Linked DNA regions of Homo sapiens. The protein of the gene in region 1 interacts with the protein of each later gene in a pairwise test. Each region holds a gene or a part of one and is shown on either strand. Other genes may lie near its edges. The genes, in order: FAM161A, ZNF250, MTCL2 and MCM6.

Region 1 (5,745 bases):
TTATTCTCATTTTCAATGAATGATATCAAGGGGTCTTCTCATTAACTTCTCAAAAAGTATAAACAGAGTTACCATGGCAGTGAATCGCCATTGCTTTTTTTTTTTAGTACATTTTTTGCTGCAGTCTATTTTGCTGGAACTATTGCTGCTAATTAACAGCTGGTTTTTAATAAATTTGCTTGCAGCTATTTGCTTTGCCCATTTATAGGAGTTAATTGTGGTCTCGCTGCTGCTGAGTGATTCCCTAACACAATATGCCTGTGATTCTTTACAGAATAAACTATGTTGTCCTGTTTCTTGGAAATCACAGGATTAATTAACTGAGAAGATGTTAAATTGAATTTTAAACCAAAGTCAGATGAAGGCTTACTGGCACAAATTTTGACTAATGTCTTTTTAATGTCTTATATATTTAATTTGCTGAAGTCAGAATATACTGTTGGTAATGCATTCAGAGCTAGGTTTGGGGTTTCTTTATTCTTCTCTGCAGTCTTTAGGGTATAGTTCTTATTTCTCATTTTGCCCTTCCTTTCAGCTCCCCAAGACTTGTCTTTTGATATTCACAGACTCTGGATGGGTTTTTACTTACTTTTCTAAAAAATATTATTGTTATTCACAGTGAGTGCGTTTTAGCAGCAGTGTTTCTTTTTCAGTTTTCCAGAGTATCAGGAAATGCCCTGGTGATAGTTTTATCTATTGTAATCAGTCCTTGCTATTTCAGGTTCTCCTGTGTAACACTAGACTCCATGGCCCCTCATTATACTAGATTTGGCAAATATCTGACAACTACGTTGCTCAAGTCAGGCTTTAGGTCACCTTCAAACTCTTGACGACCACTACCACTTAGAGAAAGTAGCATGATGTAATATAAAAGACCTAGGAAATGGTCAAGAGACTTGGTTCTACCACTCACTAGCCTTGTGACCTTAGTCAATTTCACCTTTGAGGCGGGGGCCGGGGGAGACTTGGTTTCTTTATTAAATATGGGGGTTAGACTGGGTACTCCTCCACACCCTTCCCAGTATGAATGCCATTGGTACATTGGAACTGGGCCATTCCTAGTATTAGGAATGCTTGCTTTACTTGGAGGTCTTAGCTTTAGTTGGAGGTCCAGAGGGCAATTCTTGGCCCTCTAACAGTTCAGATCCACTCATGGGAGCTAAAATGGGCTAAAGTGGAGGCACTAGTGTGAACCCAGTCACTATGTGGCTCCATAAAGCCTGCCATCTCTGGAGCTGTGATGAGAGGGTCATCACAATTCCAACAGATCTTAAAGCCGGGAAGTGACATTCTACAGATTTGAACCCAGTTCTAAATTCATATTCTTTTTGTTATATCCCTTGCTTCCTCCACAGAGTAAAGATTACAACACTGGTGCTTTTATCATCTTTAATGGATTGGGGATATGGCTTATAAAGAGTAAAAATTACAGTAGATACATAAAATAAAAGAAATTGGCTGGGTGCCATGGCTCATGCCTGTAATCCCAGCACTTTGGGAGGCCAAGGCCGGTGGATCACTTAAACCCAGGAATTCAAGGCCATCCTGGACAACATAGTGACGCCCCGTCCTACAAAAAATACAAAAATTAGCTGGGCATGGTGGCACGCGCCTATGGTCCCAGCTACTCCAGAGGCTGAGGTGGGAGGATCGCTTGAGCCCAGCAGGTTGAGGCTGCAGTGAGTTGTGTTTGCACCACTGCACTCCAGCCTGGGTGACAGAGCAAGACCCTTTTTCAAAAAAAAAAGGAAAAAGAATCCTCTGACAACAATTATTGCATGAAATCTTTTTTTTTTTTTCAGATATCTTTATACAGTCATAAAAGTATATAAAACCTAGGTACAATATAAAAAATAATTATAGATCAATCTAATGTGGCCACCACCCATGTTAACAAATAGACCATTGCCAGCACCCCAAAAACCCTATGTGCCATTGCAGATCACAGCCCTCTACCTCTCCCCAAGAGGTAACCACCATTCTAACTTTCAGGATAAGTACTTCCTTGTTTTTCTTTGCAATTTTACAGTGTGTGTACCTATCCTCAAACAATATAGTTGTTTTGCCCATTTCTGAACTTTATATAGATCATACAATATGTACTTGTCAGTGCTTTGCTTCTTTTGCTCAGTATTATATTTGTGAGATCTATCCATGTTGTGGCATGTAACTGTAGTTCATTCATTTTCCTTGCTTTGTTTCACTCCATTATAGGAATAGACCACAATTTATTTATCCATTCTGCTACTAATAGATATTTGGGTGATTTCCCATTTGGGGTTATTGAAGGACAGTACTATCCTGAACATTCTTGAACATGTCCTCCCTTGGGACTCATATGTGGGAGCTTCTCTGGTTATATTCCTAGGAGTGTAATTGTTGGTCATAGGGTATGCAGATTTTCAAACAACTGTGACTGCTGAACTTAATTATCACCAGTACTTTTAATCCATATTTTTTTTTTTTTTTTTTTTGAGACAGAGTCTTGTTCTGTCACCCAGGCTGGAGTACAGTGGCGCGATCTCGGCTCACTGCAAGCTCCGCCTCCCAGGTTCACGCCATTCTCCTGCCTCAGCCTCCCGAGTAGCTGGGACTACAGGCGGCCACCACCACGCCCGGCTAATTTTTTGTATTTTTAGTAGAGACGGGGTTTCACCGTGTTAGCCAGGATGGTCTTGATCTCCTGACCTCGTGATCCACCCGTCTCGGCCTCCCAAAGCACTGGGATTACAGGCGTGAGCCACCGCGCCTGGCCTAATCTATACATTTTTGATGAAAATTTAAAGTCTTCTGTTCTCGTCTAAAAAGGTTTGTCTTTCCTATAGAAAAATGCAAGAATGGCAGCAGAAAAGCATTATTCTAATACCCTAAAAGCACTAGGAATATCTGATGAGTTTGTTTCAAAGAAAGGCCAAAGTGGAAAAGTACTTGAGTACTTCAACAATCAAGAGACGAAAAGTGTCACTGAAGACAAAGAAAGGTAACATATATAAGATGTCTGAATGGCTTACCTTTGAAAAAATTATTACCTGCAGAAAAGCACAATTTTATACTATGTATATTTTTTGTTCTATATTGTTTTAAAAAGATCTTTTACCCAATAGTAAAAGACATATGAACTGTTGTAAAACACACTGATATTTTAACATGTTTGACACATTAACGTTCACATGAAGTATTTTATTTTTAAAGCAGAATAACAGATTTCTTAAAGACATAAGTAACAAAAATAATAGCATGCTTTCAAATGAAGTTTAAAGAAACAATCACTCAAATTTTGAAATAAATTAGTTTTCAGGAATATTAAATTTCTCAATGGGCACTTTTATAGCGTTTTCTTCTTTTTTTTGAGTTGTCTTGGTAACAAATTGGAATTCATACACTTGAGGAAGACTGGCTACACGGTGGCATACTTGCAGAGGGTTTGTTTACCTTTAAACCAACTCATTTTTCCTTTGAAAGATTGATAAATTTCTTCCCCTAGCTTTAATGAAGAAGAAAAAATAGAAGAAAGAGAGAATGGGGAAGAAAATTATTTTATTGATACCAACAGCCAGGATTCTTACAAGGAAAAAGATGAAGCCAATGAGGAAAGTGAAGAAGAGAAATCTGTTGAAGAATCACACTGAATCATCAAGGTCTCCTCTCTATGCCCTTGCTGTTGTTTGCAGCGTCAGGGTGTCAGCAGCCGCATTTGTGTTTAGAACATCTGTGGGGACGCTTCTGATATGTGCAGGGCTGTTGATCAAAGTCATCTGTAGCCTGAAAAGCCTGAATCCAGCTGATTGGTCATTTGATCAGTTAGAGTAAGGCTTTGCCTATTCAGTTTTAAAAATCATTGTGTATTATCTGTTTGCAACTATGATTTTGTATTTTTAAAAAGTGAGAACCACAGCTGTCACAAACTGATTAGTTATAAAAATATACATTATTTCATTAATTTTACTGGAAAAAATGGCTTAGTATTGAAAGGAGAGAGAAGTATTGGTCTTTGGTGGTTTACTTTTTAAAAATTTTGGAAAGTGTGAATCAATAACTATTTTTAATTATACTATTTGCCCATTCTTTTTCTCTGCAGTGCATTTCACAGAATAAATCCTCTAACTTGTTTTGCTGCTCTGAGCCATTTTTAAAAGTATAGAAAAAACGCCGGGTATGGTGGCTCATGCCTGTAATCCCAGCATTTTGGGAGGCCGAGACGGGTGGATCACGAGGTCAGGAGATCGAGACCATCCTGGCTAACACGATGAAACCCCGTCTCTACTAAAAATACAAAAAATTAGCCAGGCGTGGTGGTGGGCGCCTGTAGTCCCAGCTACTTGGGAGGCAGAGGCAGGAGAATGGCATGAACCCAGGAGGCAGAGCTTGCAGTGAGCCGAGATCGCGCCACTGCACTCCAGCTTGGGCAACAGAGCGAGACTCCGTCTCCAAAAAAAAAAAAAAAGTATAGAAAAAAATGGATACTTGCAAATTTACATTTATTTTTGCACTGAGAGTTTACTGTTAAATTGTCTACACCATCATCCCTTTTTCTTTTTATCCTTAGTTCTAGTCCAAATTATTTTTGATTTGTAAATTATTAGGAAAGTTTTTATACTAGTTTTTTTAACCCTATGTATTATTACAGATGGAAGTAATTATGGCATGTGTGAGTTATAATCTAAATTAGGGGCAAGTATCCCTTTTTTTATATGATGAAATTGTGCATAATAACTTGGCTAGGGCAAGTCTCCAAAGTAATTCAGATTTAACTCTTCACTGCTAGACCCAGTTGTGTTCAACTTTTTACATATTATTGCCAACACACTTTATCTCTCTGTGTACAGTGTTAATCTGATTTTATAAATCTATATTTTTTTCTTTAAGCAAATTTTTGTTTTAAAATTTGAAGCCAATCATAAAGATAATATAGCATAAGACATTTTCTTTTCTAAAAACAATCAGCATCATTTTAAAAGGATGAACTAATACAGGTGTATGTAATAGCAGTGTTTCCAAACTGGCAATTTATGCTTTAAATTTAAAAATAAGGTCATTTTTCTCCATCAGGGGCAAATGTTTACTTGTAATTTTCTTCCTACAGTTCGTGTTAAATTACTTTTTACTATTATTATATTGTAAACTCCTTGGGATTTGGCACCATTTAAAAATTCATCTTTGTATTCCCTTAATATTTGGAACAGTATTGTACATATGGTAGGTACTTAATAAAGGTTTGAATGAGTGTGTAGATGAATATGGTTTTTATATACTTACAGCTACTTCAGAATGAGTACACATGGGATTAAAAACATTTCCCTCCTAGCTCATTGGGAGCCTGTGAAACACAATCTACAAATTGTAATAGTACTTAAAACATTACTTGCTTTCAAGGATTCACTCCACAGCCTGTCCCTTCTCAATTTCATGAGGAGAGTGTGGGCTTTGGTCATGAAACACTTGGCTTCAGGACCAATCTTGTTTTCTTACCTTTAAAAAAAAAATGGGAATATTACCTATCTTGAGTGGCTGTAGGAAGGACTGGATGAAATCATATATGGAAAGGTCTTTGCAAACTGTGATATTCAAATGATGGTGTCAGAAGACAGAATATTCCTGAGGAAACTGTTAACTTAAAATACTTGTACTTAAATGAGATACACTGTGATTTAAATATTATTTGGTTAGAAATAACTTTTGAAGCACTTTGTTAGACATGATCTGGTTAACACAGAACCAAAGTTAAAAAAAGAGGGAGAGAGACAC
Region 2 (7,032 bases), on another chromosome or scaffold:
GGGCGCGGTGGCTCATACCTGTAATCTCAGCACTTTGGGAGGGTGAGGCAGGCACATCACCGGAGGTCAGGAGTTTGAGACCAGCCTGGCCAACATGGTGAAACCCCGTCTCTACTAAAAATACAAAAATCAGGCCGGGTGCAGTGGCTTATGCCTGTAATCCCAGCACTTTGGGAGGCCGAGGCAGGCGGATCACCCGAGGTTGGGAGTTCGAGACCAGCCATGACCAACATGGGGAAACCCCGTCTCTACTAAAAACACAAAATTAGCCGGGTGTGGTGGTGCACGCCTGTAGTCCCAGCTACTCAGGAGGCTGAGGCAAGAGAATTGCTTGAACTCAGGAGGTGGAGGATGCGATGAGCCGAGATCATGCCATTGCACTCCAGCCTGGGCAACCAAGAGCAAAACTCCATCTCAAAACAAAAACAAAAACAAAAATCAGCTGGGTGTGGTGGCGGGTGCCTGTAATCCCAACTACTCAGGAGGCTAAGGCAGGAGAATCACTTGAACCCAGGATGTGGAGGTTGCAGTGAGCTGAGATCATCTCAGCTGAGACTCTGTCTCAAAACAAAACAAAAAAAACACACATCAGATACATGTATATATTTGCACAGACAACTTTCAGGAAGATACACAATAAACTAACTGCCTGCCTCTGAAGAACAGGACAGGGAAACACAGTTGGAGAGAGACTGACTTTCAACCCTCCCCCGTGCTGCTGTTCTCCAAAAATGCCCATTCCCTCCAAATGTGTGTGTGAGCACACTTCTGTGTTAGCGCAATGCAACTCTAATTAGAATTCCAACAGAAGTCTTTTAAAGGAATGACTACAACTACTTGAGAATTCATAAGAAGAATGGATGCTAGAGAATAGCCAAGAATTTAACTGGAAAGAACAGAGGGTGGGGACTGCCTTGCCAGGAATCAGAGCCAAGGGTGGGTAGGAAGCCGCTGCAATTAAACCAACAAGTTGTTGACAGAGGAACAGATGAAGCCAGACAGGTATGTGGGAAATTGGAAGATAACAAAAATGTTACATTTTAGTTCAGCAGGAAATCAGTGGTTCCTTTAGTAACTTGTGTGTACCCAGATGGGATACATCAATAACCAATTTTTTTGTTTGTTTTTTTTTTTGAGACAGAGTTTCACTCTTGTTGCCCAGGCTGGAATGCAACGGCGAGATCTCGGCTCACCGCAACCTCCACCTCCTGGGTTCAAGTGATTCTCCTGTCTCAGCCTCCCAAGTAGCTGGGATTACAGGCATGCGCCACCATGCCCAGCTAATTTTTTTTGTATTTTTAGTAGGGACAGGGTTTCTCCATGTTGGTCAGGCTGGTCTTGAACTCCCGACCTCAGGTGATCCGCCCGCCTTGGCCTCCCAAAGTGCTGGGATTACAGGCGTGAGCCACCGTGTCCAGCCACCAATTTTTTTTTTTTTTTGAGACGAAGTCTTGCTCTGTCACCCAGGCTGGGATGCAATGGGGTGATCTTGGCTCACCGCAACCCCTGCCTCCCAGGTTCAAGCAATTCTCCTGCCTCAGCCTCCCGAGTAGCTGGGATTACAAGCACCCACCAGCACGCTCGGCTAATTTTTTAAATATTTTTAGTAGAGATGGGTTTTCACCATCTTGGTCAGGCTGGTCTCGAACTCCCGACCTCAGGTGATCCACCCGCCTTGGCCTCCCAAAGTGCTGGGATTACAGGCATGAGCCACCACGCCCAGCCCAACAATAACCAATTTTGGATTAAGATGAAGACCAAGTGTGAGCATTAACAGTGGCCTCATGTGCTCCTGGTCCCCCTGTCTGACATCTGCCTACCCTCAAGGGCAGAAGTGCCTTCTCTCCTGCCACACCCTGACCCTTTCCATGGGTCACCCACCAGCGCACAGATCTGCCATTTCTTTATTTTGAAACAGAATCTCGCTCTGTCACCCAGGCTGGAGTGCAGTGGCATGATCTAGGCTCACTGCAACCTCCGTCTCCCAGGCTCAAGCGATCCTCCTACCTTAGCCTCCTGAGTAGCTGGGACTACAGACACCTGCCTCCATGCCCGGCTAATTTTTGTACTTTTTGTAGGTACGGGGTTTCACCATGTTGCCCAGGCTGGTCTCGAACCCCTGAGCTCAAGTGATATGCCCCTCTTGGCCTCCTAGAGTGCTGGAATTACAGGCTTGAGTCACTGCGCCTAGCCCTGCATGCGAATTTGACCTTGGGTGAATGCACAGCTCTGGTCCCCTGGAAACCTGGCAGAGGTGGATGGTCATTCTCTCTACGGACCAATCACACCTGGGCTGTGACTCAATGATGAACAACCACAGGAAGTACATTCAGGGCCTCCCTAGCAGGTCTTGCAGCCAGTTCTCTTGACACAGGAGGTGCTGGCTTGTATGACCACGAGGCTTTCGACTAGGCTAACTCCTCCTCCTACCTGCATCTTGTGTTTATGCACCTCAGTACTCCCTGGATGGCTGCTGGATGATGCTGGCCAGCTTTTCCGAGAAGCTGCTGCTAGGCATGGTTGTCCTGTGAGTCTGAAAAGTCAGTTGAGCCCAGTAGCTCTTTTGGTACACTTGAGCTCGTGATCCCCCTTCCCTCTGACTCAACCTTTCAATATGGGTGTCTCATAGCATCTCAGACATTTAACATCCCAAACCAAGCACCCCCTCTACCATCATTTCTACCCCCAGCTTGGTCTGTGAGCCTGTGCATCAGCCTCCTTCCTTCTTCACTCCCACACTTCTATTCACCTTCCAAGCACATCCAGAACCTGACCATGTTGCCCATCTCGCCCTCCCTGCCCCATGACAACCACCCCTAGATGTTCGGCAGCTCCCATCTGGGCAGACAGACTCCCAGCACCGTCTGTCTGCCCAGCCCCTCCATCTACCTTCCTGTGAGAACACAGTGACTGTCCTCTGCTCCAAGGTCCTCCCAGGACCCCACTGGCTCCTATGGGCATGCCCCAAACTTTGTGATTTTCCTCAGAGCCCTGCAGCCCTTTATCCCTTGGCCTGTGCTCCCCATCCAACTCTTAGAGACCTCTGCCCCACCCACCGCAGCAGCCCTGGCCTCACCCAGCTCTCATCCTATCCCTTTCTCCTGCACCAGCAGACCAAGAAGCAGGCCCAACAGAGTAATCAGTGGTCGACCTTTTTTTTTTTTTTTTAATTACTTCTAGGCTAATGATTACAAATTGCCAGGCAATGTACTTTTTTAAACTTTTAATTAATTTCTTAGAGACGGGGTCTCACTTTGTAGTCCAGGCTGGAGTACAGTGGCTCAATCACAGCTCAATGCAGCCTCCAACTCCTGGGCTCAGGTGATCCTCCCACTTCAGCATCCCAAGTAGCTAGGAATACAGGTTGCACCACCATGCCTGGATAATTTCTTAATTTTTTTTTTTTGGTAGAGACGAGGTCTTGCTGTGTTGCCCAGACTGGTCTTGAACTCCTAGGCTCAAGGGATCCTCCCTCCTTGGCCTCCGAAAGTGTCAAGATTACAGGCCTGAGAACACCACACCCGGCCTGTTTGTTGAATAAATGAATGAAGAGGAATGAGCTCACACTTTATGCCATCTGTAATAGCCAAGTACGGAGTCAACACTTTAAACTGGCAGGCATGGGAAAGTGGAGTTTCTCATACTCTTAAGAAGGCGACCTAGCAGTATTTAGGCAAATCAGACTGGCCCTTGGATAGTGGGTACCTGATAAGAATGGATGTGGGTGAGGGTGCAGATTCAAGGATGTTGCTGAGGCAAATGCTACGTTGGTCCTTCCACATACAAGTTACACACCTGCTAAAGAGAAAGATGTATGTTGTGTCAGGTCACCAGATGGGTGAGTGAAAATGCAGCATGGGGCCAGCATGCAGGGGAAAATCTCATTTTGTAAACTATGACCCCGAGCCCATGAAGGGTATGTGTGTCACAAGGACCTGGGACTGGTTCACCTGCCTCACTTGGGCCAGCTGCATTGAGGCCCCACCTATAAATCCAGATGACACACTCCTCTGAAGGCCTGGAGATCATGTGGTTGGTGAGAGGAGAGCGCTAAGAACAGGCTTGGCTCAGAGGAGGATGCTGCTGGATAAGGTGTTATTATCTATTTGATTAACACACAGAGGAAATACTCCAAAGGACAATACCAGGCTGTCAACAAGTGTGTGGCAAGGAGAAGTGAAAGGGAAAGACTGCCACCTGGGGTGAGTCTTAGAAAAGCATCACACAAAATGCAGTATCAGGTCTCTATTGAAAGATGACCATCACATATTGCTAATTAAAAAAAAAATCGGCCAGGCGCAGTGGCTCATACCTGTAATCCCAGCACTTTGGGAGGCCGAGGCGGGCGGATCAAAAGGTCAGGAGTTCGAGACCAGCCTGGCCAACATAGTGAAACCCCGTCTCTACTAAAAATACAAAAAGTTAGTCAGGCATGGTGGCAGGCACCTGTAATCCCAGCTACTCAGGAGGCTGAGGCAAGAAAATAGCTTGAACCTGGGAGACAGAGGTTGCAGTGAGCCAAGATTGTGCCACTGCACTCCAGCCTGCATAACAGAGCAAGACTCTGTCTCAAAAAAAAAAAAAAAAAAAAAATCCTATCACAAAGTCTGATTGTATTCTGGTAATAAATGAACAAAAATGGCTGGGCATGGTGACTCACACCTATAATCCCAGTACTTTGGGAGGCCAAGGTGGGAGAATTGCTTGAGTTCAGGAGTTCAAGAACACCCTGGACAATATAGTGAGACCCCGTCTCTATAAAAAAATTTAAAAAATTAGCTGGTTTGTAGACCTAGGTACTCTGGAGGCTGAGATGGGAAGATTGCTTGAGCCCAGGAGGTCAAGGCTGCAGTAAGCTGTAACTGCACCACTACACTCCACCCTGGGCAACAGAATGAATCCCTGTCTCAAAATAAATAAATAAATAAATAAAAATTAAAAAAAAATATGAACAAAATACATTTTAAAAGTGGTATTAACTAGTTTAAATTTTTTCCTTACTTACACTATGGCAGATAAAGGTTTCAGTTTCCTGGAACGAGCCTGTAACAGGATACCAGGCCAGGCAAACACCATGGACCTCAACCTAAACCTTGCATACTCAAGACAGGAAAATGTAAGAGCTATCGGGGGTGCCAGAAACTGGCTTTTAACAACACACTCCATCCACACTTCACGGGATTCTGACGTCCAACTCCAAGCTTTGCTCCATGAGAACACAGTTCAGGCAGGGAAGGAGGATGATGTGGACAGTTTTAAAAAATTAAGACAGGCTAATGACGAGTCCTCTATAGATGCCAGGCTCCAGGGCCAGGGGCTGGGACAGGCTGGAGATCACCGCCACAGAATACTGGAAGTGGAGTTTGAGGAGCCCCCTCTTGAGGCCATGCCAACAGCTAACAAATGGGCAATATAAAGAACACCCACTCAGGGCACTGGCTGAGCAATGATCCCTCCCACCCACTGGTTACAAAGGTGGCAGCATAAGGAGCTAATTTTTCAAACTCAGGAATTTCAATCTTGAAAATTTCCCTAAGGAATAATCCAAAACAAAAACAATAGATCAACGTTATTAGCAGCAACTGGCTTTCCAGTTTTCTTTAGGTGATCAAAAGCCACATCGCAGTGAGACATTCCTATCACTCTTTTTGGAATTCCTGACTGTCTTGATGTGACAAAGCAGTGTGCCTGTCATTCCAGAGGACCCTGCACATGGTCACACACTGGGACAGGCACATTTGGAGTCTCCTGATCTGGGATGAGCTTCCAGGATCTCCTCCAGGGCCACTGCCTTCTCCTGCTCCTCATCATCCTCACTCCCTGGACTTTCTGCTAACAAGCACTGCTCCCTCTTCATCACCAAGGAGCCCCTACCCGCTAGGGTGAAAGCACTTTCAAGAGAGGCAGCTTCTGAGCCACTTGTGAGCACAAGGCGAAACACTGCTAAACTTGACCTAATCTAAACTAACCCTAACTAACCTAAACTAACCCTAACCTGCAACCTTTCCAGAATTAATGATCAGAAATATGTATCCAAATTGATAGCTTTCTGGTCGGGCACAGTGGCTCATGCCTGTAATCCCAGCACTTTGGGAGGCCAAGGTGGGTGGATCACCTGAGGTCAGGTGCTGAGACCAGCTCGGTCGGGGAGACCCTAACCCAGCGGCGCTAGAGGAATTAAAGACACACACACAGAAATATAGAGGTGTGAAGTGGGAAATCAGGGGTCTCACAGCCTTCAGAGCTGAGAGCCCTGAACAGAGATTTACCCACGTATTTATTAACAGCAAGCCAGTCATTAGCATTGTTTCTATAGATATTAATTTAACTAAAAGTATCCCTTATGGGAAACGAAGGGATGGGCCGAATTAAAGGAATAGGTTGGGCTAGTTAACTGTAGCAGGAGCATGTCCTTAAGGCACAGATCGCTCATGCTATTGTTTGTGGCTTAAGAATGCCTTTAAGGGGTTTTCCACCCTGGGCCGGCCAGGTGTTCCTTGCCCTCATTCCGGTAAACCCACAACCACAACCTTCCAGCGTGGGCATTATGGCCATCATGAACATTTCACGGTGCTACAGAGATTTTGTTTATGGCCGGTTTTGGGGCCAGTTTATAGCCAGATTTTGGGGGGGCCTGATCCCAACAGTCAGGAGTTCAAGACCAGCCTGGGTGACATGGTGAAACCCCGTCTCTTCTAAAAATACAAAAATTAGCTGGGTGTGGTGGCACGTGCCTGTAATTCCAGCTCCTCCCAAGGCTGAGGCATGAGAATTGCTTGAACCTGGGAGGTGGAGTTTGCAGTGAGCCAAGATCGCGCCATTGCACTCCAGCCTGGGCAACAGAGTGAGACTCCATCTCAAAAGAAAAAAAGCAAATAAACAAACAAACAAAACAAAACAAAACAAAACAAAACAAAAAAACAACCAAACTGATAGCTTTCTTATATACCAGTAACACCTAATCAGAAAATATGAATGGAAAAAAATCTATTCAACAAATAGCAACAAGAAACAAGATTAAACCTTAGAAAT
Region 3 (7,032 bases), on another chromosome or scaffold:
ACCTCCCGGCTTCAAGCAATTCTCCTGCCTCAGCCTCCCGAGTAGCTGGGACTATAGGCGCATGCTGCCACGCCTGGCTAATTTTTTGTATTTTTTAGTAGAGATGGGGTTTCACTGTGTTGCCCAGGCTGGTCTTAAATTCCTGAGCTCAGGCAATCCACCTGCCTCGGCCTCCCAAAGTGCTAGGATTACAGGCGTAAGCCACCATGCCTGGCCTCTTTTTTTTTTTTTTTAATGTAGAGATGAGCTCTCACCATGTTGCTCAGACTGGTCTTGAACTCCTAGCTCAAGTGATCTGCCCACCTCAGTCTCCCAAAGTGCTGGGATTAGAGACATGAGCCATTGCACCTGGCCAAAAAAGGAATAAATATTTAAAAGATGTTTTTAAATGTCAGCCAGCTGAGTGAGAGTATAGAAAAGTAACGCACTCGCCACACACTGCTGGAAGCTGTAGATATGGCACACTTTTGAAAAACAATTTGGCAGTATTTATCAAATAACTTTAAAACATTTATATTTTTTTTTTTGTGTGGAGATGGAGTCTCACTCTGTCACCCAGGCTGGAGTGCAGTGGTACCATCTCAGCTCACTGCAGCCTCCGCCTCCTGGGTTCACGCGATTCTCCTGCCTCAGCCTCCTGAGTAGCTAGGACTACAGGTGACCACCACTATGCCCGGCTAATTTTTGTATTTTTAGTACAGACAGGGTTTCACCATATTGGCCAGGCTGATCTCAAACTCCTGACCTTGTGATCCACCCGCCTCGGCCTCCCAAAGTGCTGGGATTACAGGCATGAGCCACCGCGCCCGGCCACATTTATATTCTATTATCCTTTAATCTCATTTCTGCAACTTATACCTAAGGAAATAGTCTGAAATGTAAAAAAATGATTTTGCACCAAGATGTTCACCACAGCATTATTTGCAGTAGGGACAAACTAGAAACCACCTAAACGTACAATAATAGAAAAGTAGAATGTTTGAGTCTATCACAGCCCATTCCACACACAGCCCTTCTCATGTCTCTGTGCCCCACAGCAGACCACATGGTACCACTCCCAGCCATAGACTGGACCAAGGGGTACACTCGCCTCTAGCTGCACCAATCAGAGTTTCCTTCTTTCAGAAATGTGGAATTGGGAGACAGGGATTTGTGTCAGTCTCTCCTAGGGGCTTGAACTGGAAGATGTTGTAAAGTCAGAGCTGGGACAGCCCACCCAGTCCTTGTGCAAATGCAACAGAGAGAGAAACAGAGAAAAAGGAGGAATATGATATCAGAGAGGGTGAAGCTTAAAGAGAGGAGAGGAAGACAGGGAGAAGCTGCTGAGGTTGTCAGGTTCCTACTCTTGGGTTTTATAAAACATGCCATCCTTCAAATACATTTCCTTCCCTTTCTGCAAAGTTAACTTATGCACATTCTAACACATTCAAATAATGCTCACTAACATTCAAATAAGGTTTACTAATTAACTTATAAGAAACTGATAGCAGGAGTGGGGTGTGAAAGATTCTCAGAGGAAATGTGAGCACTTAGGTGTGAAGTCTTGATGGGGTGGAGAAGTGGTATGCCCGCTAATGTTTAACAATTAGTTTTCCAGGAGTGATAGGAGGAGCCCCGATTTGTAGTGTTTACCAATTTTTATGCTGTAAATCCTCCCACTGTGGCCAATCTCAAGGTACCAAGGTGATGTTAAACACAGAGATGTGGCCAGGCGCGGTGGCTCACGCCTGTAATCCTAACACTTTGGGAGGCCAAGGTGGGCGGATCACTTGAGGTCGGGAGTTCGAGACCAGCCTGGCCAACATGGTGAAACCCCGTCTCTACTAAAAAATACAAAAATTAGCCGGGCATGGTGGCAGGTGCCTTAATCCCAGCTACTTGGGAGGCAGAGACAGAATTGTTTGAACCCAGGAGGCGGAGGTTACAGTGAGCCGAGATTGAGTCATTGCACTCAAGCCTGGGGGACAAGAACGAGACTTCTCTCAAAACAAAAACAAAAACAATAAAAAAAAAAAAACCCACAGAGATGCTGACAATTGGCTCCTGCAAGCCAAACAAGCTGGCTCTAGCACACCACTGGGTGGCAGGAGAGCAGTAAGGCCCCTTCCCTGGAGGGGATGCTGGCAGTCTCTGGTGGGTGGAGCAAAAGCTGCTAGTTAAGCCATGCTCACTAGTCTCTTGGAATTCAGACCATGTGACCATCAGGTCTGTGTTGTTCCAGGTCTGGGACCTTCCAACTCTATCCTAGACCAGCATAAGAACTTCCTGGAACACATGGCCATATCCCTGAATTTTTATTTTATATATATAGATATATAGATAGATAGATAGATAGATAGACAGACAGACAGACAGACAGACAGACAGACAGACAGACAGATAGATAATTTTTTTTTTTTGGTGAGACGGAGTCTTAGTCTGTCACCCAGGCTGGAGTGCAATAGCACAATTTCAGCTCACTGCAACTTCCGCCTACTGGGTTCAAGTGATTCTCCTACCTCAGCCTCCAGAGCAGCTGGGACAACAGGTGCATGCCACCACGCCTGGCCAATTTTTGTATTTTTAGTAGAGATGGGGTTTCACCATGTTGGCCAGACTGGTCTTGAACTCCTGATCTCAGGCGATCCACCCACCTCGGCCCATATCTCTGAACTTAAAAACCAAAAGAGCTTGGACCTTATATACTAACTCCACCTACTAAGAGAAAGGACAGATCCCACCCACCTACCTCATTGGGAAGGACCACGGCTCCATCTCCGTCCCGGAGGACACCATCCTTCCCCACCTGGGGGAGCATGGTGAGTCTGACCTCCTCACTGCTGCCCAACTTGGCTGCCTTCTTGTTCAGGATCCTGGCCACACCCTCTGGCTGATGGTAGCTGGCTGGGGAGAGGGGCTCTGGCTTCTTGGTGCCCTCCTCTCCTGCTGATGAGGTGGGGCTCGGTGCCCGGCCACACACATTACGGAAGAATTCCTGCACAATGCCGTACTTGGGAGGCTCGGGCTTGGCCCGCGTCTCAGACATGCCTAGTTTCCAGACAGACTCCGTGCTCCCTGAGTGCTCCACCACACTGAAGAGGCTGGAGAGTCCATCGTTGATGTTTCTCAATACAGGGCTGTCCCGCGTGGTGGTGGAGCGGGCCCAGGCCGAGCCGTTCTGCTTGCCCTGGTGCAGGTTCCACAGGCTGCGGTCCTTGCTGCTGTCCAGCTTGGACACAGACCGCCTCTGGAGCTTTGGTGAGCCATACTTGGGGGAGCAGCAGGGCCGCTCGATGCGCGAATGGACCTTGTCCAGGGAGGAGGAGATCTGCTTGCTGCGCACAGACACGAGCGAAGAGCTGCGGGGTGACCAGGCCTTGCCATGGAGGCTGCTGCGGGGTGGGTCGGTCTGCAGGCCCACGCTGACCGTGCGGATGGTCTGTGTGCCCACACTGGCCAGGCCCACCGTCTGGCTGGATGTGCTCTTCACTTTCCTCTCCAGTGAGCCGGAGCGCATGGCCTGGCGCACACAGTTGGTGATCTCCTTCATGTCATCACTCATGTTGCCTGACATCTCAAAGTCATGCAGGGCCGCTGGGAAGCCAGGCCCGGCCGCCGAGGGGCTGCCCGCTGAGCCTCCGTCCAGGCGCTGCCGTGAGAAGTTGCAGAGCCACCGACCATAGGAGCTCTCAGCCAGCCCATCAGCCTCGGCCGACTCTTTGGGCTTGGCTGTGGTGAAGAGGAAGCCGGGCTCGATAATGATCTTGCCCTCTTTGTCATGAACCACAGGGACTCCGAGGCGCCGGGCCACCGGGGGACTATAGTAGACTCGGATGCCCGTCTTGTCAGGAGCCGTGTAGCTGCGCTGCATCTGCCTCCCTGGGGGGTCCTGGCAGGCCAGGGCACCCAGGTGGTTGCAGTCCCTCGACGAGAGCCCAGGCTTCTCCTTGGTGTCTTTCTCTGGATCCCCTGGCTCGGAGCTCACAAAGCCAAAGGCAGGGTTGTTAGGCAGCTTCTTGCCCCGGGCATCTCCGCCAGCAAGGTAAGGGGAACAGTCGAGCAAACTTTCAAACTCAGACATGGAAGAAACAGATTTGGTTCTGCGAAGGACAGAGGAGGAAACGTCGTTATTAGTGGAAATAACACTGAGGGCACACTCTGGTCTACCACCCTGGTCCGTGTGCTGCGTGAGGGCAAAGACCAGGACCGTCTTGTTCACCTCTTGTAGAGATGTTGTTGGTGCCCAGTCCCACATTCTGTCTGCATTTTCTTTTTTTTTTTTTTCTCCCAAACAGGTCTTGATATGTCACCCAGGCTGGAATGCAGTAGTGCAATAATAGCTCACTGCAGCCTCAAACTCCTGGGCTCAAGTGATCCTCCCATTTCAGCCTCCAGAGTAGCTGGGACTACAGGTGTGCACCACCAAACCTGGCTTTTTTTTTTCTTTTTTTTTTCTTGAGACAGAGTCTTGTTCTGTCACCCAGGCTGGAGTGCAGTGGCATGATCTCGGCTCACTACAACTTCCACCCTCCAGGTTCAAGAGATTCTCCTGTCTCAGCATCCGGAGCAGATGAAATTACAGGCGTGCGCCACCACGCCCAGCTAATTTTTGTATTTTTAGTAGAGACGGGGTTTCACCATGTTGGCCAGGCTGGTCTGGAACTCCTGACCTCAGGTGATCCACCCGCCTCAGCCTCCCAAAGTGCTGGGATTACAGATGTGAGCCACTGTGCCCAGCCTAACACCTGGCTAATTTTTAAAAAATTTTTTGTAGAGATGGGGATCTCCCTATGTTGCCCAGGCTGGTCTCAAACTTCTGGCCTCAAGAGATCTTCCTGCCTCTGCCTCTCAAAATGCTGGGATTAGAGGCATGAGCCACTGCACCTGGCCTCTCTTTGCACTTTCACCTATACACCTAAAACTGCATACTCTGAACTGCATACTCCACCATTCTCTATCTGATGGTTTTTTTTTCTGCCTGTGGGATCATACTTGGCTGTCCTACACATAGAAGAAGCTAGACCCAGCACTTTGGGATGCTGAGGCAGGCAGATCACCTGAGGTCAGGAGTTTGAGACTAGCCTGACCAAGATGGTAAAACCCTATCTCTTAGTAAAAATACAAAAATTAGCCAAGCGTGGTGGCGTTAGCCTGTAACCCCAGCTACTCAGGAGGCTGAGGCAGGAGAATTGCTTGAACCTGGGAGGTGGAGGTTGCAGTAAACTAAGATTGTGCCATTGCACTCCACCCTGGGAGACAGAGCAAAACTCTGCCTCAAAAAAAAAACAAAAACAAAAAAAACAAAACACACGCCCAAACCGAAGCTAGAGATAGCACAGAGTTAATGAGTTCACACCCCTAAACACAGCCCTCAACAAACAATAGGTGGGATATGGTGAACAAGTGCCCCAGCCTCCTTGTGGTGGGATGACTCTAAGCTGCATGTTCTCCTCTGGCTCCCTGAGTTCCTCCGACAGCCTGAACTCCAGTTGCCCGTGGAATAACCTGGTTGAAGCTCCTTTTATCGGCTGCTTTCCCTTCCCTGTCTCACTTCCAAGTGTTTCCTGAAATTCTGTCCCAAATAAACCATTTGCACTTAAATCTTTGTCTCAGGGTTTGCTTATGGGGGAACCCAAACTAAGACGCCATGAAGCTCCTGGCACACCTATTGCCTGAATCACTGAACACACCAGGCATATGGAAATGCACGTGTCAGACCACTCTGATTAACTTCAAGAGGCAGCTCCTATCATCCCCACTAGACAGAGATGGGAAGTACTGCTCAAGGTCAAGGTCATAGAGCTAGAACTGGCAGGGCTGGCATTCAAACCTGGCCCTCTGGCTCCACAGCCTGTCCCGCCTGCCTTGCTTCTGGGCTGGTCTGATAGCGGCTGGGGGTTCTGTTTCCCTGACTCCTTTCATGGGTTTCCTAACAGTGGAGACGTGGTCCTTATGGTCTTGGGGTGGGGGTCTCCTTGGCCATAGCACAGGGCTGGGCCCAAAGGATGCTGCTCAATAATCCCAGGAATAGAGGTCAATCTTGACTCTCCTAACTCCAGAGGCAGGAGAAAAGAATCCCAAGAGGAGCAAAATGTTTTGTTTCCACCTGTGTTCCATTCCCGGACTCAAACAACATGCAGCAGCCTGGAATTCCCACTGCCCCAAGCCTTCCAGCTCCTGAGTGGCTCGGGTTCCAGAGAAACCATATCCCGATGCTCTCCCAACTTGGATGCGGTGGGGTGGCGGCAGGAAGAGGGCAAAGGGGCGGGGCAGGGCTGCGGTGAAAGCAGGTAGAGTGGGTGCAGGGCGCAGCAGGAGGTGGAGAGGGGCGAGGCTGTGGGGCCGGTCAGAGAGGCAGAGCAGGGGACCAGCATGCAAGCACCTCTTTAAACCATTTCCTCCAAGCTCAACTTCGGAAACAGCCTCCTTGTCGTGGATCTTCTCACTGCGTGTCTGTCAAGGAAGAGAGACAGGAAGGGTCAGTTCTGGCCACCAGAGCACTAAGGGCATGGAACAAGAGACCAGCCCCGACCTCAGTGCTTGAATCTCCTCATCCGGAGAGCAGGAATGATGTCATCAATGATCTAGCATGGTCAGTTTCTGGCTGCCCTGCATCCAACTCCCCCACCATATGTGATCCAGGCTGGGCCAATCAGAGCTCCAAGAGTGACCCACCCAAGGAAAGGGACCACTTAAAATTTAATCCAAATGTGGTGACTGCAACAAAGCATCCAGTGGTCCACTGCTCAGCTGGTGGTGGGCTTGTCTTCTTCCTCCTCAACCCTACCCCCTCACTTAGCCCAGTCCCTGGGTGGTTGGGTTTTTTTTTTATTTTTTTGAGGCAGGAACCATGAGATACAGACTCCAGGGCTGAGGAGCCCAAGGTGCAAGGGTGTGACCTATGAGACAGGGTTAGCAACTTCCTCTCATGTCCCCCACAAGCAGGGACCTTTATGGTGCAGCCAGGAGCCAAGATAGCATGGCAGCAGCCGCCCCACTCACCTCCTTCCAGCTGTTGTCCTGCTTCTCCAGCTCCGAGTGCTTCAGGACCCA
Region 4 (6,350 bases), about 74 Mb from region 1:
CTTTTAATTTGGTTTATAGTGTCTGTTTTTTTTTAATAGACTCCCATGACTTTCCATAGACTGTAGAGGGTGAAGCCTGGGAATCTTTTTTTGTTGTTGTTGTTGCCGCCCAAGCTGGAGGGCAGTGGCATGATCTCAGCTCACTGCAACTTCCACCTCTTGGGTTCAAGCAATTCTCCTGCCTCAACCTCCTGAGTAGCTGGGATTACAGGTGCCCACCACCATGCCTGGCTAATTTTTGTACTTTTAGTAGAGACAGGTTTTCTCCACGTTGGCCAGGCTTGTCTCGAACTCCTGACCTCAGGTGATCTACTCACCTTGGCCTCCCAAAGTGCTGGGATTACAGGCGTGAGCCACCGTGCCTAGCCTTTTTTTTTCTTAAGTGAAAGCAAGGCTATTAGGAAAGTAAAGGAATAAAAAATGGTTACTACGTCAGCAGAGCAGCCTAGTCTTTAAAGATACATTACCTGATACCAGTCTTCTTATAAAAATCCCATGACAAATCTACTTGAGTATTCACTCTTGTTTTTAATGTTTGCCATTTATTTTTAAAATACTTAATTGTACATACTTGTGGAGTACATTTTGACAAGGTTTCATACAAGTTGATTCCAGGGAAAGAGATAATTATTGGGAGAAACATATTTAAATCATTGTTTTAACCTATATTAATCTGTCTTGCTTTCTACTAATAGATTTCTGGCTGCTCAAATTCACATTGCACTGGAAAGCTCAGACATCAAGGCAAGTTGAGTACTCATGGGTATTAGACTGTCCCACGTGGGCCTTAGCCTCAGACAGTTATTTTGCTTTTGTGACCTTTAACATACTTTGTGATTTAATGAATGCCATCTGTTGTTAAAAGCTGCAACACAGGAACTGCTCCACCTCATGAACATACTGATCATAGCTAAGTCTCAGGAACTGTTAGTATCATAAACGGTAATAACTTTTCCTGGAAGACCATAAAATTTGGGGATTGCTTGTAATATAGCAAATGACCTATTTCCCCTAAAAAAGCAATTTGAAAACAATCCTGAGAAATTACCCTTAGGACACAGAAGTAAAATAAATTACTAAAGAGTAATTTTAAAAAAGTATAATAAACTTTTATAAACTTAAAAAAAAAAAAAAACAACTGGAATTAACCTTGGAAAGTCATCTCTAAGGCCTCTAGCTTTCATATGAGTTCTCTAATGACTCCTTCTCATAGAAACCTCATCCATAATACCACAGTTCTACCTCTTCACTCCAGGTTAAGCAAAAAGGGAAAGTCTCACATTCAGAAGTAGATGGAAGTAATAATCAGGGTACAGTAGAAAGAAATCCAATAGACAACTTCAGAACAAGTTATTTTATTTTGATGAATAAAAGCAGTAGCTGGCAATTGAAAAAAAGTTATTTGCTCAATAGGACAGCACATACCTTAAAAGTAATGGGCCTTTTCTTACACATGAAAACAAAGGTATTGGTTATAGAGACTACACATTATTTGGTTCCAACTTCACTGGGACAGGAAACACACCAAAGGAAGTGCTGAAGCCTGTGTTGGTATGAAACCTGTGATGAATGTGACACATAGGACCATCAACTCAATTCTTGTTTCTGAAAACAAATCCTGGAAGCATCACTTCCAGAAACACTTCTGTCCCTAGCAGAGCTCCAGCCAGGCTCCAGGCCACGAGGTGCTGTGCCACAGTTCCTCAGCTCTGGTCAGTTACTTTCACTATCTCAATCTTCGAGCAAGTAGTTAGGGTTAACTACCAAGTAGGGATCTTCTTCATAGCTCTCACTTCCCTCTGTGGAGCCTTTCAATCCAGCCTGGGTGAGCTCAATTAGAACATGATCCTGTGAAACACAAATATTTGTCCTCAGGTTTCAAGCAGTATTATACCAATGTCCAGATATACAAGACTTGACCCTTCTTCCGAGTGTTTGCTATCAACATTTTCTTTCATTTCCCAACTAGAAACTCCTAGGAAAAGGACCACACTTTAAAAATCACTATCAGTGCTCTGCTAAACCCTGTTCCTAGTAGGATGCTGACCTTTTCATACCATAAACCCCTTGTGGAAAATTAAGAAATACTTAAATATATTACATCAAATGCTTGTAAATACAACTTCAAAAAAGGAAGTAATGCTTGAATTTTAAGGTTAAACAACTCTGCAAAATCTTCTAATTAATTGGAAGTCTGTTTCATACTTAATATCATTCAGCAATTTTTAATTATGACCACTGAACTTTTTCATATACCACCATTTCATAGAGTTAGGAGAAGAATCTATGAAAATTCATCTGAAAAATTTTTCACTCTGAGCTAATAAAAAAAAAGGTAGAACATGCCATCTGGCTTAAAATCTTGATGACAGATTTTAAGCCCACGATATAATTACAGGTTAGTCAAAACTGTCCACAAATGAGAAGAGCTCCTAGCCAAGCCCATAGAAAGGAACTCAGGAAACTGTGATTTGATCCTAAGAAGTCTGGCAAGGCTCCACAGTATAAACACTGAAGCCACTAAGGGGGACTGGACACTTTTTAAAAAATTGCCCTTTCAAATCTACCCCTGAAGTTAGATTGGACACTTTCAAGCACTCACTCTATGTGTTAACATACCTTCATAGGAAGCATCATATCTCATCAGCACAGTATAAGCTCTCTAGTTTTCTGTAGCAAATTAGTTCAGGTGGTAAGCCAAATTTTAAAAGGTAATCCAGGCTGAGCGCAGTAGCTCATGCCTGTAATCCCAGCACTTTGGGAGGCTGAGGTGGGTGGATCACCTGAGGTCAGGAGTTTGAGACCAGCCTGGCCAACATGGTGAAACACCATCTCTACTAAAAATACAAAAATTAGCTGGGAGTGGTGGCGGGCACCTGTAATCCCAGCTACTCTGGAGGCTGAGATAAGAGAATCATTTAAACCCAGAAGGCGGAAGTTGCGGCGAGCTGAGATCATGCTACTGCACTCCAGTCTGGGCAACAGAGCAAGACTCTCTCAAAAGATAAATAAATAAATAAATAAATAAATAGGTAATTCAAGTTTAGATCAGTTAGCTTCACAGTGTGTTCCAAAGTCCTGAAGCAGATTCCTTGCCTGGGTCGTTTTACTTTACACTGATCCCAAGGAGCACACAGACATGTCCCACCACTAGAAAAGCAACTCTGGACCCTGATCTGAGTAGCTGTTCTTACACCTCCCTACCCCTCAATAATCACAGACTGATCTACCTTCACAGGAAAACGGTTTTTGAGAAGACACAACCCCAATACATGACCTCTGTAATATTTATATAGTGAGCCCTGTGAATTGGCACGACAGTTAAATCTCTGCCACATAATAGGAAAATTTAACCATTCAACATATATTTGATCCTGCTATGTGCCAGGTACCACTGTAGCTCCGGGGCAAAGTCTCTACCCTCACAGAGCTTATATTCCATAAGAGAGACAAACTAACCACTTAAATAAAGAATATACTGCTGGGCCATGTTAAACATTACGAAGAAATACAAGGCAGGGTGACAGCAAGAGCAGAAGGCTACTATTTTGGCAGGCTAGCAAGAAAGGTTTCTTTGAAGAGGTAACATTTGAGCAGACATTGGAGAGGAGGAGGATATCTAGGGAAATGGACAAAGGGTGAGTGCAAAGGCCCTCATATTTGGTGTGCCTAGGGATCAAGGCCAGTGTCACTGGGGTGAAATGGGTATGGGGAAGACTGCTGTGAAATTAGGTGAATGAGGGGACAGGGGTTACACTGTATAATAGTTCTGCAGGCCATGACAAGGAGGCTGAATTTCCTTCTAATGTGAGAGAAGCACTGGAAGGGAGGGTAGTAAAATAATCTGATTTATATTTTAAAAAGACTTATCTGGCTGCTGAGCAAGAAGCCAATACAAAAAAAGGACAATTTTATGAGGCTTCTGCAACAGTCCATGCCTGGTGGCTTGGGTGGGCTGGTGAAGGCGGTAAAAAGAGAAAAGAAAATATACACACACTGAAGCTGGGGGTCAGAGGATTTGCTGCTGAAGAGGAGCTGTGAGGGGAGAGTGGAATCAAGGAGTCAAAGACAATTCCAAGGCATTTGGCCTATAGCAATTGAGTAAGAACAACTCAACTGCAAACAGGGAAGAACAACTCTGTTTTTGAACACATTAAGCACGAGATGCCTGTTAAACGCTCATCAGTAGGCAACCAGCTCTATACATCTGGAGTTTACAGGAGTGGTGAGAGCTGGTGACATAAATGTGGAAGTCATCAGTAGATGGATAAATTCATAAAACCAAATGAGATCACTTAGGTAATGAATGTAAACTATCTGAGAGTAAAGTAAGAAGAGAAAGATTCAGGCCAGGCACGGTGGCTCACGCCTGTAATCCCAGCAGTTTGGGAGGCCAAAGTGAGCGTATCGCCTGAGGTTAGGAGTTCTAGATCAGCCTGGCCAACATGGCAAAACCCCATCTCTACTAAAAAAAAAAAATTAAAAAATTAGCCGGGCGTGGTGGCCGGCGCCTGTAATCCTACTTGGGAGGCTGAGACAGGAGAATCGCTTGAACCCAGGAGGTGGAAGCTGCAGTGAGCTATGCCACTGCACTCCAGCATGGGCAACAAGAGCGAAACTCTGTCTCAAAAAAAAAAAAAAAAAACAAAACCATTCAGGGAAAGAGACTAAGAGGGAATAACCAGTGAGAAAGAAGCCCCAGGAGGATACAGTGACTCAGAACCAAGTGAGGAAGACACTATTTGTAGGAGTGATCAACTGTGACAAAGCTGTGGACAGGCTGAGTACTGAGAATGGCCAGCTGACAGGAGTGGAGAGAAGGTATGTGATGGGCCTGTGAGAGAGTGAGGCAAAGAACTGACCCGGGAAAAGGAATTGCACTGGGCAGTGCTGTCATGAGGTTGATGAGACAGTAAGAACTGTCCACTTGAGATTTCTGGTCATCGATTTAAATAAGACTGGGCTCATAATTATATGCTTTTCTCCAGATACTTTCAGCTGCTTAGATAAGGATACAAAAAAAAAAAAAAGTTATATTTAACCAAGTTTGGGGTTTCGCCAAGCAAGTAAGATGGAAGATTGACTATTGGGTTGGGTAAGGTGGGAACTAAGAATGTGAGGAAAATGAAACATAGAAAGTAGGTGACAGCAGTACGACCAAGGGCAAATATGAGGATGGGAAACAGAAGCTTAAAACACCTAACTAGTAAGACTTCAATCCCACCTTCTGAGATTTAACCTAAATTCTGCTTGTTTCAGCAGAGGAAATAAGTCATTTACCTGCTGTTCATTCTCTCTTATTTTACAACTCATACTTCTGACTACACTCCAATGATTCAAAACAAACAAAGGTCAAAAAAAATTTCACTAGTGAACCTGCAGATACAGGGCATGAACTCCCTCCCTCCCTGATACCAGAGCACGCGCACTTCTGCACCTACATAGTGTGTGAGTCGATGAATAACTTTCTCTATGATTCTTTTTTTATTTATAAGTTCTTCTTCAGAGTCTATCTCTGATTCGATTTCCTTCAAGTACCAGTTAACAAGCTCGCTCCTCTTTAATGCTGACTCGTCCTCTTCTGCAACAAAAAAACACATTCAAATTATCCTAGCAACTCGTACTGTCAGTCCTTGGGTAAATCTCTGCCACATATACAACGAGATAATGTACAGATTAGATAAATGTCAAGCCGTCCGAAAGTACATCTGGTGACGTAAGGTCCGCAATGTTCTAGCATAAGCCTGAAATAACAAGTCATATCACTTGTATTAAAGCATGCCTTATTTTATCCATAAGGAGAGAAACCTAATAAAATAGATTATAAGAAATATGTTTCTTAAAGCTATTAAGATTTCAAAGTATGAAGGTCTTTTCTTCATCTTCTTATGCTTCACCACCTCTGAGAATGCTTGCCAACAGAAACTAAAAGCATAAATTAGGAATGAAGCAACAGCAAGCAAAAATTCTGAAATATAACAACTTTTCCTCTGTAGAAAGGGGAAGGCTTTATGGAACTGGAGTTTACTAAGAAGTAAAATTCATGAGTATTCACTCAAAATAAAAAATTACCTGTTTATTTTAGCAAGGTTCATCTTACTAAGTGAACTGCCTGCTGCTTTTAACAAGTCCAAGGTCTACCAGACTTTTAGAAAGTCCTGGTAAGAACCCTCAACACATAGGAAATGTTTGGACCTGGATAACATAACTATCATAAAACTCAACTTCTGCTGTGTTTAAAACTTACTTGTATGAGGGAGAAAGAGAATAATGACATATAACATGAATCAAGAACACCTTGAGTTCCCAAATCATTTTGTGTGAGACGCGAATGAGGACAAAAGCTGAGG

What was found.
Region 2: the proteins of FAM161A (region 1) and ZNF250 interact in binary tests that used the Homo sapiens proteins (3 or more experiments, as listed by UniProt).
Region 3: the proteins of FAM161A (region 1) and MTCL2 interact in binary tests that used the Homo sapiens proteins (3 or more experiments, as listed by UniProt).
Region 4: the proteins of FAM161A (region 1) and MCM6 interact in binary tests that used the Homo sapiens proteins (3 or more experiments, as listed by UniProt).

The regions. Positions count from the first base shown.
Region 1 is NC_000002.12:61,824,339-61,830,083, reverse strand, and holds the end of FAM161A (protein FAM161A), read left to right. Parts: intron 1-2,825; coding exon 2,826-2,980; intron 2,981-3,484; coding exon 3,485-3,629; 3' UTR 3,630-5,236; downstream 5,237-5,745. UniProt on the Homo sapiens protein: Involved in ciliogenesis.
Region 2 is NC_000008.11:144,891,438-144,898,469, forward strand, and holds part of ZNF250 (zinc finger protein 250), read right to left. Parts: intron 3,796-7,032; exon of another isoform or gene 3,706-3,795; intron 1-3,705. UniProt on the Homo sapiens protein: May be involved in transcriptional regulation.
Region 3 is NC_000020.11:36,790,521-36,797,552, forward strand, and holds part of MTCL2 (microtubule cross-linking factor 2), read right to left. Parts: coding exon 6,982-7,032; intron 6,433-6,981; coding exon 6,362-6,432; intron 4,080-6,361; coding exon 2,729-4,079; intron 1-2,728. UniProt on the Homo sapiens protein: Microtubule-associated factor that enables integration of the centrosomal and Golgi-associated microtubules on the Golgi membrane, supporting directional migration. Preferentially acts on the perinuclear microtubules accumulated around the Golgi.
Region 4 is NC_000002.12:135,839,104-135,845,453, forward strand, and holds the end of MCM6 (DNA replication licensing factor MCM6), read right to left. Parts: intron 5,582-6,350; coding exon 5,442-5,581; intron 1,849-5,441; coding exon 1,732-1,848; 3' UTR 523-1,731; downstream 1-522. UniProt on the Homo sapiens protein: Acts as a component of the MCM2-7 complex (MCM complex) which is the replicative helicase essential for 'once per cell cycle' DNA replication initiation and elongation in eukaryotic cells.